Regions from separate parts of the Homo sapiens genome. Here region 2 is linked to region 1. Evidence: fine-mapped expression QTL. Tissue or cell type: whole blood. Region 1 holds a variant in brackets; the other region holds the start of a gene. All regions are shown on one strand. Distances are from middle to middle.

Evidence for each region. PIP is the estimated chance that this variant, and not a neighbour inherited with it, causes the effect.
Region 2: it holds the start of CLCC1, and the variant in region 1 is fine-mapped to the expression of CLCC1 in whole blood (INTERVAL, PIP above 0.99).

Annotation. Positions count from the first base shown.
Region 1 is chr1:108,926,300-108,934,502 of GRCh38, forward strand. GPSM2 (G protein signaling modulator 2) reads left to right here. Exons shown (of 15, transcript NM_013296.5): 15 at 3,402-8,203. The coding sequence ends at 3,641. CLCC1 (chloride channel CLIC like 1) reads right to left here. Exons shown (of 13, transcript NM_001377458.1): 13 at 3,206-6,202. Among named protein-coding and RNA genes, the nearest start is that of CLCC1, 33 kb to the right of the region's middle. The variant G/A (reference allele first, on the strand shown) is at 4,885.
Region 2 is chr1:108,958,926-108,967,102 of GRCh38, forward strand. It overlaps CLCC1 (chloride channel CLIC like 1), which reads right to left and starts at 4,559. Exons shown (of 13, transcript NM_001377458.1): 1 at 4,436-4,559; 2 at 3,384-3,544. RefSeq lists enhancers at 2,261-2,761, 2,762-3,262, 3,635-3,754 and silencers at 3,682-3,976, 4,115-4,354.

The DNA of each region.
Region 1 (8,203 bases):
GGTAGTTGAAGACATGTGCCAGGAAGTGATTTTAATAATGGACTTAAGAATCTAGGCTGTAAGAAGGAAAATAAAGAAATGAACACTTCATAACTCATTCTGTGAGGCCAGTATTGCCAATACCAAAGCCAGACAGACACTACAAGAAAAGTACTGACCAATATCCTTCATGAATCCAGATGCAAAATCAACAAAAGCCTACAATCCAAATTTAGCAGCGCCCCTGCTGTAAAGGATTTTACACCATGACCAAGTGGGACTTATTCCCAGGACGCAAGGACTGATTGTTCAACATGTGAAAATCAATCAGTGTAACACATAATATAAACAGAATAAAGGGAAAAAACACATACAGGAAAAAAATGACAATTCAAAACTCTTTCATGATAAAAACTTAAAAATTAGCAACAGTAGGAAACTACCAGAACATAATAAAAGCCATATATGAAACATGTACCGCTGACATCATACTCAATGGTGACAGACTGAAAGCTCTCCTCCAAGATCAGGAACGAGATCAGAATGCAGGTTTTTGCCACTTCTATTCAATGTAGTACTAGAAATTCTAGCTGGAGCAATTAGGCAAAAAAAGAAAAAAAGGCATTCACATTGGAAAGGACAAAGTATCAATAAAATTGACAGAGGTAATCAACAAGTTCAACAAAGTAGCATGATACAAAATCAACACAAAAATCAGTTGTGTGTTTATACACTAACAATGAACAATTGGAAAAGAAATTTAAAATTCCATTTAAAATAGCATCAAAAAGAATAAAATACTTAGAAATTAATCACTGAGGCAAAGACTTGTATAATGAAAACCACAAAACATTGCTGAAAGAGATGAAAGAAAACAAATGGAACAATATCCCATGTTCATGGATTAGAAGACTTAATAATGTTAACATTTCGATACTATCCAAAGTGACCTACAAATTCAGTGCAATCCCTGTAAAAATCCAAATGACTTTTTCCTCCTACAGAAATAGAAAATATAGCCTAAAATTCATATAGAACCTCAAGGGATCCCCAAATATCCGAAATAGTCTTGAGAATAAAGCTTTAGGGCTCACATTTTTTTATTTCAGGTTATTACAAAGCTACATTAATCAAAGCAGTGCAGTACTGGCATAAAAGACAGACATATAGACCAATGGAATAGAATACAGATCCCAGAAATAAACCCTTGCATGTGTGGTCAAATAATATGCAACAGGGGTGCCAAGACCATTCAGTGGGGGAAAAGACAGTTTTATCAACAAATGGTTCTGGGTAAACTAGAGAGCCACATACAAAAAGAATGAAGTTGGACCCTTACCTAATACCATATGCAAAACTCAAAGTGGGCCAAAGACCTAAGCATCAGAACTAAAACTATAAAACTCAAGAGGAGCATGTGGTGGCTTATACCTGTAATCCCAGCACTTTGGGAGGCCAAGGTGGGAGGATTGCTTGAGCCCAGGAGTTCAAGACTAGACTGGGCAGCATAGTGAGACCCCATCTCTATAAAAAAATTTTTTTAAATTAATGGCACACACCTGTAGTCCCAGCTACACAGGAGGCTGAGGTGGGAGGATCACTTGAGCCTAGGAGTTCAAGGCTGCAGTGAGCCATGATCACGTCACTGTGCTCCAGCTTAGGCCACAGAGTGAGACCCTGTCTCTAAAGGGAAAAAAAAGGAAAGCCTCATGGCATTGGGTTTGGCAGTGATTTCTTGGTTATAAAACCAAAAGAGTGAGCAGGGAACAACAACAACAACGTAGACAAATTGGACTTCATAATTAAAAACTTGTGCATCAAAGGACATTATCAACAGTAAAAAGGCAACCCAACATAAAATACTTGGAAATCACATATCTGATAAAGGATTAATACCCAGAATATATAGAAAACTCCTAAAACTCAACAAAAACCAACCTGATTCAAAAATGGGCAAAGAACTGGAAGAGGCATTTCTATAGAGATAACAAGAGGCTAGAATATGACCATGGGAGCCAAATGGCTAAGGCCGAAGTGAAGGATGAGGACATTCAATCAGAGGAAGTCTAGGAACTAAGTGAGGAAGTCTAGGAACTAAGTGCCCAAGTGTTGGGTTAATTGGAGGACATTGAAATTATCAATTTATGACAGGAGAAATGAATGAGCCAGGTATGTGTGGAGGTGGCACTCACTTAGGAGGGCAGTAAATAACTGCACCCTCTGAGGGTTGTGGGCTTAAATGTTCAGGGATCTATGTCTTATCACAGTCCCTAACAATGTAGTGCATATTCAAATATCAGCTATCACACTTCTATTCTTACTCTTGAGCTACAATGCCAGAAACTATGGTGTATACTTGTAAGTGCATGTATTTTTTGACAAGTAGCATGTCTAATATAAGAATCATAATACTCAAACTTGAAAGAAAAATTCAGAGACCAGGCTCATGCCTGTAATCCCAGCATTTTGGGAGGCCAAGGCGGGTGGATCACTTGAGGTCAAGAGTTCGAGACCAGCCTGGCCAACATGGTGAAACCCCCATCTCTACTAAAAATACAAAAATTAGCCAGGTGTGGTGACGCATGCCTATAGTCTCAGCTACTGGGAGGCTGAGGCTGAAGAATCACTTGAACCTGAAAGATGGAGGTTGCAGTGAGCCAGGATCACACCACTGCAGTCCTGCCTGGATGACAGAGCGAGAATCCGTCTCAAAAAAAAAAAAAAAAAAATTCATTCTGGGCTATTTCTTAACAGATTTAACAGCCTAAGACAGAGGCAGGCAAACTTTTTCTGTAAAAGGCCAGATAGAAAATATTTTAGGCTTTGCCGCCCATATGGTATCTATTGCAACTGCCCAACTCTGCCATTTAGTAGGGAAGCAGCCATATAGATAGTATATAAACATATGTATTGATGGGAAAATGAAAATGACTTCATTTACAGAAGCCGGCACTGGGTTACAGTTTGCTGTCCCCTAGCCTAAGACGTGATTTTTTTAAGGTAGTTCCTCATGGGGTTTGTACATATTTCTAAAGATTTGTTAAGTTACACAGTTGATGCCTGTTAGATTATAACCTTGAACTGTCATACTTAGATACAGTTGACCTTGTCTTTTATCCTTGTGACCAATTATAATTAAAACAGTATGACTTAACATAATGCACGTACTAAACCAATGAAGCAGCTATACCTATATAAGCCATTTTAAAGGAAAAATTTTATGCAGTTTCAGGTTTAAAGATTATTTCTTTCAGAAATCAGGCTGGGAACTAAAGAGAACAATATAAAAACAAAGATTAATTTCTGAGAAGCCCCAAATAAAAGTTTACAACTGCGTTTTCTTGTTGTGACTGAGAGATTTAACATAGCTTGGTGCTTTCTTTCCCACAGTATGTCTTTTAATCTCTCTCATAAACTTCTAGGGATCCAGATTAGATGATCAAAGATGTGCTCCACCACCTGCTACCACAAAGGGTCCGACAGTACCAGATGAAGACTTTTTCAGCCTTATTTTACGGTCCCAGGGAAAGAGAATGGATGAACAGAGAGTTCTTTTACAAAGAGATCAAAACAGAGACACTGACTTTGGGCTAAAGGACTTTTTGCAAAATAATGCTTTGTTGGAGTTTAAAAATTCAGGGAAAAAATCGGCAGACCATTAGTTACTATGGATTTATTTTTTTTCCTTTCAAACACGGTAAGGAAACAATCTATTACTTTTTTCCTTAAAAGGAGAATTTATAGCACTGTAATACAGCTTAAAATATTTTTAGAATGATGTAAATAGTTAACCTTCAGTAGTCTATTAAGGCATTAATACTTCTCTGGACATGCGCGTTTGAGGGTGGAGGGGTCCTGTAAGGTGCTTCATCGTCTGTGATTACTGCTTGGGATGTGTTCTTTGGCAGCTTGTGAGATTACTTTACCTAGTGTTTATAAAGTAGGAAGTTAAGTGAATCATAGATTAGAATTTAATACTCTTATGGAAATAATTTTTTAACATCTTAATTGACAATGGCGTTTTTTTATACATAACCATGGATGTAGTGGGAAACAATGTTGTTTGGTAAAAATAATGTACTTGATCAATGTAAAAAAGTATATAAAATAGTCTTACTAAAAATCTAGGTTTTTTTTTCCTCCATGAAAATCTGTTTTTTTAGGCCAAAGTCAGTATAAAAGAAACTCTACTTCTTGGGCTGGGCATGGTGGCTCATTCCTGTAATCCCAGCACATTGGGAGGCTGAGGCAGGAGGATCGCTTGAGGCTAGGAGTTCAAGACCAACCTGGGCAACATAGACCCCCGTGTCTATGAAAAATAAATCAGCAGCCAGGCGCAGTGGCTCACACCTGTAATCCCAGCACTTTGGGAGGCCGAAGCGGGCGGATCACTTGAGGTCGGGAGTTTGAGACCAGCCTGGCCAACATAGTGAAACCCTGTCTCTACTAAAAATACAAAAATTAGCTGGGCATGGTGGCATGCGCCTGTAGTTTCAGCTACTTGGGAGGCTGAGGCAGGAGAATCACTTGAACCCCTGGGAGGCAGAGATTGCAGTGAGCTGAGACCAAGCCACTGGACTCCAGCCTGAGTGACAGAGCAAGACTCTGTCTCAAAAAAAAAAAAAACAGCAAGCATGCTGGCACACACCTGTAGTCCCAACTGCTTAAGAGGCTGAGGCAGGAGGACCACTTGAGCCCAGGAGGTGGAGGCTGCACTGAGCTATGATCGTGCCACTGCACTCCAGCCTGGGTGACAGAGCAAGACCCTGTCTCTAGAAAACAAGTATCTTTTGTGTGTTTTGGGCTGTTTAAAAAAATTATTTAAAATGGTCTCTTCTGTTCCATAATACTGCTGTAAAACAAACTTTTCTAAGTTCTAATATAAAAACAAAAAACAAAACCCAT[G/A]TGGTTAGGTCAAGAACCTAGGACACATAAACAAACAGAAAACAGATGAAAACTCACAAAAATTAAATATGAAAGAAAGATGTCAGCTAGAACCTTAGTTGTCATTAAGCTTTGTCTTCCTTATCCCAGATATTGAAGGCAGTTTACAAGGGGATGATAACAAAGTAACTAACTAACTGTAGCAAAAGACAAGTATGGGACAGACTGGGACCTGGAGTAACACTGGATCACAGACTGCAAAGGCCCACGCTTGGAACAAGTTGCCAACTTGTTTCACTCTGCTTGCTTCAGACTGTGCACAGCTGGGATGGGATCTGGGGATGTGGACCCCTATTCTTTCAAAAAGTCATTCAGGTGATTTGGATGGGCAAATAGAACTATTTCTCTAATGGCCAATGTTTTTTAAGAGTCATAACCTGGAATTAATTACATTAAGTGCTCAGCTAAAAAAAAAAAAAAAGTTCTAAATTACAACCTGGATTACATTATGTTTCATGTATACTATAAGGTATGATGTCCTGGATAGCATTTTAAAAACTCAGGTAAGTTTCATGGGGTTCTTATAAGAAAATTCAGTTAAGACAATATACCAAACCACAACGTAAAAAGTTTGTGTATACAAACTTTTTGTATTATTTGTACACAAAGTACAAATTTGTATTTGTACACAAAGTACAAACTTTGTGTATTATTTTGTGTATACAATAGTTCTTACAGCCTGTAAACATTCAACATTATTCCATTTAAACATTGTTTTTAACAGCTGTCTACCCTGTTCTGATTTTCCTAAAAGCTTCACACTATATAGGCTGGGCACAATGGCTCATGCCTGTAATCCCAGCACTTTGGGAGGCCGACAAGGGCGGGTCACTTGAGGTCAGGAGTTCGAGACCAGCCTGACCAACATGGTGAAACCCCATCTCTACTAAAAAATACAAAAATTAGCCAGGCATGGTGATGCACATCTGTAATCCTAGCTACTCGGGAGACTGAGGCAGGAGAATCTCTTGAACCTGGGAGGTGGAGGTTGCAGTGAGCCGAGATTGTACCACCTCACTCCAGCCTGGGTGACAGAGCAAAACTCTCAAAAAAAAGTAAAATTTCAAAAAAGCTTCACAATATAAACCTTAATTTTAATGACATATTGGCTAGTCAATAAACAAGTCTTATCTCATCTCATCTCTTTTCTGATAACAAACACCCGATGTGTTCAATTTGCTTTCATATTTAAGTCTTTCCTGAATTGCTGTCATCATTCAACAACAGTTGCATGTCGCCTTGCTAGCTGTCAAAGTAGACTTCATCCCCAAATGGATATCTGTAATGAAAGAATACAAAGGTGAAATTTTATTTAAAAATTTTTTAAAAGAATTTGGTTTTGGATTAAAAGGCATGCAAGCAGCATTAATTCCACTCACAGTTACAGTCTATCACCTGGGGCATTCACTACTTTTCAGAGTCAGATCACAGTTCAAAAGACAGCTCTCACCTTGGGGGCATATTCCCCAAGTCAGTGTGAACATGTCTTGTCCCAAGAGGACACTTTATACGCATGGATGTTCACAAATTTATTCTAAACTGCAGGTGTCTGTCAGGATTCATTTGTTAAACATGTCCTCTGTGTTAAAAATCCTAAAATCCTTTTGCATTTCTTAGAAAAAATCACGTTTCTGATGAAATTCTAAAGATGTTTGCAATATTAAACTAGAATATATTAACATGTATAATTTTGAGACAAGGTCTTGCTCTGTCACCCAGGCTGGAGTACAGTGGCTCGATCATAACTCACTGCCACCTCACGATCCTCTTGCCTCAGCCCTCCAAGTAGCTGGGACTACAGGCGTGTACCACCATGCCTGGCTAGTTTTATTTTTAGTACATAGCCTTGAACAACTGAGCTTAAGCGATCATCCTCCCTCAACCTTCCAAAGTGCTAGGACTGTAGGCATGAGCCACTGCACCTGGCCTAAAATTACATTGTTACAGGCACGTAAGTAACACTTCCTGGATCCAAAAATGTGTATTCTGCATTTCAACAACTGAACTTAAGCGATCATCCTCCCTCAACCTTCCAAAGTGCTAGGACTGTAGGCATGAGCCACTGCACCTGGCCTAAAATTACATTGTTACAGGCACGTAAGTAACACTTCCTGGATCCAAAAATGTGTATTCTGCATTTCAACAACTGAACTTAAGCGATCATCCTCCCTCAACCTTCCAAAGTGCTAGGACTGTAGGCATGAGCCACTGCACCTGGCCTAAAATTACATTGTTACAGGCACGTAAGTAACACTTCCTGGATCCAAAAATGTGTATTCTGCATTTCATATTAAAATAAAAAAGCAAGTGCTTGGGATACAAATATCTGCATGAAAATTTAAAGACTTTATTCCTGACTGGTATCACTTTTAGTAAGCAGTTGAACATAACTTGTAGTGTGAATATGGTTAAAACAAAGGACACCTGATGTCTGTGAAGTCTGCTAAGGACAGGTACAAAATTTATGCATTGCTTTTTAAAAAGTTTAAAATGAGGAATGCTTTTGATAATCAGAAAGACTAATGTAAAGTGCTGACTGATGTCCTGTCTGCAGTTAAGGAAGACACCCAACTCTCTTCTTCCTCATCATGGTATTCTCTATGTATAGATCTCTAAAAATGCAAACTTCCTATGGACAAGACAATATGATTTGCTATAATATGAATTAAGATATGGTAATATCTAATAGTCTCCACTGCTAGGATTCTGAGTAACACAAAAAATAGGTTTTATAAAAAGCCCATGCACTTCAATTGGTGGGGGAAAAGAATAAAGTCATTTTCAGTCGACTGACTCTGTAAAACAGATTACCAATATAACAAGCTATGTTATCTAAATTGCCCTGGCAGTCTTCAGTTTTCTCTAAGTAAACAAAGTAAAAGGAACAATAAGGATGCAGGCGTAGTAATAGCTGTGGAAAAGATGAAACTACAGCCACAGTGACCTGTGGGCAGCCTGCGTAGAGATAAGCTGAGGTGTCAGTCAGACTGATCCTGGTAACGATACTCCATGGCTGCATGAAGATGCTGGAGGCATCAAGTGGGTGGCCTTAACTCTAGTGGATTCACTAGGCAATGTAAATTGGTTAGTGGGTTCCCGTAAGTGCCTGTAACAATAAAATTTCTTTTTCAATGTCCCCAATTCAAACTGGCCTCCTTAACTATCCAGAATCAGTGATGCCTGTCATCTGTTCATCTTAAAATAAACACTTCTTACTTTATGGGATGTAAATATCAAAGAGAAGATGAAATGAAAAGCTTTTACATATATAACGTGTTTG
Region 2 (8,177 bases), 33 kb after region 1:
CACTTTGGGAGGCCGAGGTGGGCGGATCACCCAAGATCGGGAGTTTGAGATCAGCCTGACCAACATGGAGAAATCCCATCTCTACAAAAAAATACAAAATTAGCCGAGCGTGGTGGCACATGCCTGTAATCCCAGCTACTCAGGAGGCTGAGGCAGGAGAATCACTTGAACCCGGGAGGCGGAGGTTGAGGTGAGCCGAGATCACGCCATTGCACTCCAGCTTGGGCAACAACAGTGAAACACCGTCTCAAAATAAATAAATAAATAAATATATGAAAATTAGCCAGGTATGGTGGCACACACTTGTAATGCCAGCTACTTGAATGGCTGAGACAGGAAAATCGCTTGAGCCTGGGAGACAGAGGTTGCAGAGAGCTGAGAGCACACCACCGTACTCCAGCCTGGGTGACAAAGTGAGAATCCAACTCAAAAGAAAAAAAAAAATTAAAGAAAAAAAAGCTCATATGATGAGGTTGCTAAGATCTATGTTAAGAACAAAACTTGTATCCATGAAATTGTACAGGAGGAGAAAGAAATTCATGCTAGTTTTGCTGTCGCACCTCAAGTGAAAAAATTCCAGCCACAGTACATAACTGTTATTATTGTGTATTGTTATAATTTTTCTATTTTATTAGTTATTGCTGTTAATCTCTTACTGTGCCTAACTGATAAATTAAACTTTAGCAGAGGAATAGATGTATAGGAAATAACATAGAATATATACAAGGTTCAGTACTATCTGAAGTTTCAGGCATTTACTAGGATCTTAGAATGTATACTCCAAGGGTAAAGGGGGGACTCTATACTCCCAAAGCACTTCCCCAACTCCTACTCCTGGCCAAGATGGAGTAACAGGGACCAGATTTACCCTCCTGCCTGAACAACCAAAGCTCTGCACAAAATAAATAGAACAATAGTTTCTGGCCGGTTGTGGCGACTCACGCCTGTAATCCCAGCACTTTGGGAAGCCAAGGCAGGAGGAACACTTGAGCCCAGGAGTTCGACACCAGCCTGGGCAACTTAGGGAGATTCCATCTCTACAAAACTTGAAACAAAATTTAGCTGGGTGTGGTGGCATACGTCTATATTTCCAGCTACTTGGAGAGGCTGAGGTGGGAGGATCACTTGAGCCGGGGAGGTTGAAGCTGCACTGAGCCGAGATCACGCCACTGCTCTCCAGCATGGGTGACAGAGCAAGACCCTGACTCAATTAAAAAACAAACAAACAAACAAAAAACACTAAAATCACTGTTATGCTCTGGAGATACTTAGAAATACTGAATAACTGTATACTTTATTGGAAAAAATTAAGAGTTCAACTAAGGAAGAAAGCCATGGAAGAAGCAAATACCAGAGAGGAGAGTGAAGGCTAATCAGGGCAATAGAAGACAAGCCAAAATATGCAATGGGCAAAAACTAAGGAGGGACTTAATTTCAAGAAAGTGGTATCAAGCGTATTCAATACTTCAGAGAAGTGGAGAGGAACAAAGTCTGGAAAAAAGCCATTGGATTGGTTAATTAGTTGGCCATTTATGACCTTTCAGAGAATGACAGTGAGAAGCCTAATTCTCTAAGTGGTTAAGAAGTAGGTGACAAAGGGAGTGTGTAAACTGGAGAGAGGCTCCAAGATGGGAGTGCATGAAATTAAGGTTACGGGAAGGGTTCTTCATAGGCAATGAGGTTATATACTCCATAAATAGAAATGAATGAAGATGGATGAAGACAAAATTTCTAAAGTAAAAAGAGAAACTGACAGATTTCATATTATAATATGATATGAAGTGGACAGAGAAATTAAGAGTAATTTGCATTTCTAACACTGTGAGGAGGTTAGGATGGGGGAAACGGAGATTTGGAGGGGAAAAAAGGTACTACAGGAGGCATTATACAAAGGGAAGTGAATAAAAAGCCTGTCAAGCAGTTGAGATTTTTTTTTCTTTTTTATAGAGACAGGGTCTTGCTATGTTGCCCAGGCTAGTCCCGAACTCCTGAGCTCAAAGGATCCCCCTGCCCGCCGCCTTGTCTTCCCAAAGTGCTGGGATTACAGGTGAGCCACTGTGCCAGCCAGGCAGTTGAGTTTTGACTGTGACATCCACAAAGTCGTACTATTGGCAACTATGTTACTTTCTACAGTAATAACCAGCAGTTCCATAGATTTCTCCAGGGATAGAGATTAGCAATGCAGAAATGATGGAAGACAGGAGGGTAAGACAGAATAGAAGAATCAGCTAGAAATTCAAGCCCTCCTGCCAGATCCCCATGGTCACTGATTGAAGGCTGGAACTCCTTGAGAAATCCTAAAACGAATCTCACACTTCCTCCAAACAAAGCTACATCTAAACCTGCTGAAGAGTTTGTTAAAAAAAAAAAAAAACGATTCTGATTCAGTAAATCTGAGGTAGGTCTGAGATCTCCACTTCTAACAAGCTCCTGGTGATGCCGCAGACCACACTCTTGAGTAGCAAAGTGTTAATCGAAAGTAACCATCCTAGCTAGTTTCGTTTAATGGTGGCACCTATGTCATTCTAGTACTTGTCAGGGGACACTACTCTTTCTCTCTCCCGCAGTCCCTACTATTTTTACCATTTCTCTCCTGTCTCAGGCTTCGGTACTAATAATTTTTAAATTATAATATGTATAATAGTAGCTAAAGGCCGGGCACGGTGGCTCACGCTTGTAATCCCAGCACCTTGGGAGGCCAAGGCGGGCGCATCACCTGAGGTTGGGAGCTCCAGCCCAGCCTGACCACCATGGAGAAACCCTGTCTCTACTAAAAATACAAAAGTAGCAGGGCGTGGTGGCGCATGCCTGTAATCCCAGCTACTCGGGAGGCTGGGGCAGGAGAATTGCTTGAACCCAGAGAGTGCAGGTTGCGGTGAGCCGAGATCGCGCCATTGCACTCCAGCCTGGGCAACAAGAGCAAAACTCCGTCTAAAAAAAAAAAAGTAGCTAATATTTTGTTACTATGTGCTAAGCACTGTTACATTAATTTAATCCTCACAAAACTACTGGAAGTAGTACTCTTATCTTCACTCATCTTCATTTTACAGATCACACAAAGTAACTTGCCTAAGACCACCAAGCTAGTAAGTGGTAGAACCCAGACTGGCTCTACCTAAACTGCCTCTCCAGGGCAAAAGTACTAATGGCTCTCAGGGGCTTCTCTGAGAGGATAGGGTCTTAGAGTGGAGAGGACCTGTTGGAACGACATCTCCACAGAGCGGGAAATAGGGAGAGTAGTTTATAGTAGCTACTAGACTGGAGAACTACCAGGAAACACAGATCGTCGTGCAGACGGCCAGGCAGTGAGTAGAAATGGGCACAAAAGAAAAAGTCTTTGGTTTCAACGAAAGCACATGAGTAATGGGAAAGGCAAGACTAACCTGGATTAGTAGAGTCAAATCCTGTTTTAGACTAGAAGTACCAGGGTATAAGTCGGGAGGCTGCAACTTATTTCGTATGCTTATGCAGTTTCTTGGAACCATGGCTCTCAAACTTGCGAATTTGCATTTTTAACAATTTCCCAGATGACGATAAAGCTAGTCTGGGAAGAACACTTCATAATCACTATTATAAAGAAAACCTGAATTGTTTTTCACCACCCAGTAATAAACCTACAGCTTATGGTGTGTCTAACTTTTTACACTCAAATCAGATTTGGAGCCAGGCGCAATGGCTCACGCTTGTAATCCCAGCACTTTGGGAGGCCAAGATGGGAAGATCCTTTGAGCCCAGGAGTCAGAGACAAGCCTGGACAACACAGGGAGACCCCTTCTCTACAAATAAAATTTACAAATTAGCCGGGCCTGGTGGCGCGCACCTGTGGTCCCATCTACTCAGGTGGCTGAGGCAGGAGAATCGCTGGAACCCGGAAGGCGGAGGTTGCCGTGAGCGGAGATAGCACCACCGCACTCCAGCCTGGGTGACACAGCAAGACTCCGTCTCAAAAAAAAAAAAAAAATCCATTTTGGAGGTTGTTTTGTGTCCGTTTTTGTTGTTGTTGTTAACTGTGTTAATTCACAGATTTGAAGTTTTAGAAAATTAACTACAACTAAATCCGAGCTATTCTGCTGACAGCATTTATTCAAATTATGCTTAAAGTTTTCAGAGATAACCAAAGCCAACAGAATTCAACGTGCGCTCAGGTCTCGCTTTGCCCTCGCTGTGCCTTCTCCGTAGGCCGCTCTCTGGGCCAAGCACCTCCCCGGAACGCGCGCAACCGCGGCGGACAGGCAGCCGCCGGCGCGGGAGCTGAGGTAGGAGCCCGGGGCACCCACAGGCCGCAGCGGACGCACGCAGCTAGCACGGTCCCCGCCCCGGGTCGCGCCTGCGGCCTCCCCAGCGTCTGCGCCGCGAGTCCGCTGGACCCGCCAGGGCGTAACGGCGGGTAACCCGCCCCACCCGCCGCACAACACACCCAACTGCACGGACTCACGTCCGGGATCCCCTGCCTGCCTCTCGAGGAAGACACCTGCCCAGGCCGGCCGCAGAAGAGGTCGCACAGCTTGCCGCCGCCCAGGGTTTCAGCGTGCTTCCTGGGCCTCGTCATCGAATTGTTCGGCTGACGGCTGCGTGTCCCTCCCCCGTTGCGGGCCGCTGATTGGCCTCGTTGATTGGGCGGGGCTAGTAGCGGGACCGGCCTCTGCGCGCGGGTTATTTTCGCCGCGGATTTTCTTTTACTTTTCATCTGCGGAACTCTTTCTGCGAAGGAAATCTCGCCTGGAACTCAAATATATACAACGGATAGGAAACCTATTTTCTTACTATTAATATATTTGATAAGTTTGAATGTGTAACATTCGCCATGAAACGCAAGCATGATTTTTTTTTTTTTGAGGCAGAGTCTCACAGTGTTGCCCAGGCTGGAGTGCAGTGGCGCGATCTCGGCTCGGCTCACTGCAACCTCTGCCTCCCGGGTTCAAGCAATTCTCCTCTCTCAGCCTCCCGAGCAGCTGGGACTACAAGCGCGCACCACCACATCCAGCTAATGTGTATTTTTAGCAGAGACAGGGTTTCACCATGTTGGCTAGGCTGGTCTCGAACTCCTGACCTCAGGTGATCCGCCCGCCTCGGCCTCCCAAAATGCTGGGATTACAGGTGTAAGCCACCGCGCCTAGCCACAAGCATAATTTTTTAAAGGGAGGATCACGAATGACAACTGTAGTTCTACTCAGGGCAGGACAAGGGAAAGGTCTGCACACTGTAGGGCAGTTGGAAGTAGTTTTGTTTTTGTCTTTAACTGCTGGCCTTGCAATCTCGGGAAACTGTGAAGATGGTAAAATTTACTATCTTAACCATTTTTAAAGGTACAATTCAGTGGTATTAGATACATTCACATTGTTATGCAACCATTACCACCATCCATCTCCAGCACTCATCTTGCAAAACTGAAACTCTGTACCCAGTAAGTGGTAACGCCTCATTCTTCCCCTCCCTCCTTCCCAGCGACTACCATTCTTTCTGTCTTTATGAATTTGACTACTCTAGGTATTTCATATAAGGACTCATACAGCATTTGTCTTTTTGTAACTGATTTCACTTACCATAATGTCCTCAAGGTTCATCCATGTGGTAACGTGTCAGAATTTCTTTTAAGGCTGAATAGTATTCCATTTTATGTATATACCAGTTCATTCAGTCATCTGTTAATGGATAACAGGTTGTTTCCACTTTTGGCTACTGTGAAATAATACTGTAAACATGGATATACAAATATCTGTTTTTTAACCCTTTTGGGTATACACACAGATGTTCAAATATCTGTTGCTTTCAACTCCTGAATATATATACACAAGTGGAATTGCTGGATTATGTAGTAATTCTATTTTTAATTTTTTGAGGATCTGCCGTACTTTTTTTTTTTTTGAGATGGAGTTTCACTCTTGTTGCCCAGGCTGGAGTGCAGTGGTACGATCTCGGCTCACCACAACCTCTGCCTCCCGGGTTCAAGCGATTCTCCTGCCTCAGCCTCTTGAGTAGCTGTGACTACAGGCGTTTGCCACCATGCCTGGCTAATTTTTGTATTTTTAGTAGAGATGGGGTTTCACTATGTTGACCAGGCTGGTCTCGAACTCCTGACCTCGTTATCCACCCACCTCGACCTGCCAAAGTGCTGGGATTACACGCATGAGCCACTGCGCCCGGCGGAACTGCCATTCTCTTTTCCATAGTGGCTGCAACATTTTACATTCCCTCCAAGAGTGCACAAGTTCCAATTTCCCCACATCTCCACTGACATCTTTTTATTTTTGTATAGTAGCCATCTTAATAGGTGTGAGGTATCTCACTGTGGTCTTGATTTGCCTTTCGCTAATGACCAGTGATGTTGAGCATCTTTTCTTGTGCTTATTGGTCATGCCATTTGTATATGTTTGTTGGAGAAATGTCTATTCAAGTCCTTTACCCATTTGTTTTGTTTGTTTTATTTTGTTTTGTTAAGAGACAGGGTCTCGCTTTGTCACCCAGGCTGAAGTGCAGTGTCATGATCATGGCCCACTGCAGCCTTGAACTCCTGGCTTTGCCCATTTTTTAATGGGTTTTTGTTGTGTTTTGGTTCCTTATATATTCTGGATATTAACCACCTTATCAGATAGGATTTGCAAATATCTTCTCCCACTTTTTCTTTTCTTTTTTTTTTTAGAGACAGGGTCTCCCTGTATTGCCCAGGCTGGTGTCAAACTCCTGGGTTCAAGTGATCCTCCTGCCACAGCCTTCCAAAGTGTTGGGATTACAGGCATGAGCCACCATGCCCGGCCCCATCTTCTCCCTCTTAGTGGGTTGCCTTTTCACTCTGTTGTGTCCTTTGGCTTCTTACTATAAAACGAAAATAAAATTCTAAGCCCCCCAACCAACTGAATAGGCCCATCCTCTCAGCCAAGGGCATTCTAAAGTAAACCTGAGGCCAGTTGCAGTGGCTCATGCCTGTAATCTCAGCCCTTTGGGATGCCAAGGCAGGTGAATCACTTAAGGGCAGGAGTTCAAGACCAGCCTGGCCAACATGGTGAAACCCTGTCTCTAGTAAAATCACAAAAATTAGGCAGGCAAAGCGGTGGGCCCGTAATGCCAGCTACTTGGGAGGCTGAGGCAGGAGAATCGCTTGAACCTGGAAGGTGGGTGTTGCAGTGAGCTGAGATCATGCCATTGCACTCCAGCCTGGGTGACAAAGCGAGACTCTGTCTCAGGAAAAAAAAAAAAAACAGAGACCTTAACACTGACACACTTTGTAGCAGTAAGATACCAATGTGACAGCAGGTCCATCCCCCCACCCCCACCTCTGAGTTGTCCCATCTTTCTGAACTGAACCAATGTATATTTAACATGTATTGATTGATGTCTTACGCTCCCTAAAATGTATATAAAACCATGCTGTAGCCCAAACACCTTGGGCACATCTTCTCAGGATCTCCTGAGGCTATGTCATGGGCCATGGTCACTTAAATTTGGCTCAGAATAAATCTCTTCAAATATTTTACAGAGTTTGACTCCGTCGACATTACAATTTTGGAAAAGTAAACATTTTAAAAATAAAATTTGGGGGCAGATGTGGTGTCTCATGCCTGTAATGCTAGCATTTTGGGTGACCAAGATGGGAGGACTGTTAAGAGGCCAGGAGTTTGAGACCAGCCTAGGCAACATAGTGAGACACCCATCTCTATAAAAAAAATTAGCCCCACATTGTGGCATGTGCCTGTAGTCCTAGCTACTCGGGAGGCTGAGTGAGGCAGGAGGATCATTTGAGCACAGGAGTTCTAGGCTATAGTGAGCAAGACTTTGTCAATATAACACAATGCAATAGAAAAATTAAACATTTTAAAAATAGAAATAATCTCTCAACTTGAGGCAACACACACACACACACACACACACACACACACACACACACACACATAAAATTGGAACAGACCTCTAAATGTCCTCCCTGGGAATAATTAAGAACCTCTGCACTACCCATCCACCCCAATTCCCCTTCCTTGCACTGCCAAATGAGATGGACCCCAAGAGTATAGATACTTCAGTCCTCTCATTTTCTCTTTTATGTGAACCTCAAAGAACCTAGTCACCCCATGCAGAAGACATGTGGAGACAAACAAAAAAGGACATATGTAACCAGCTATTTACTGAAGCAAATATAACAATTTCTGGTGCTTATTATTTTGAGAGGGAGTCTTGCTCTGTCG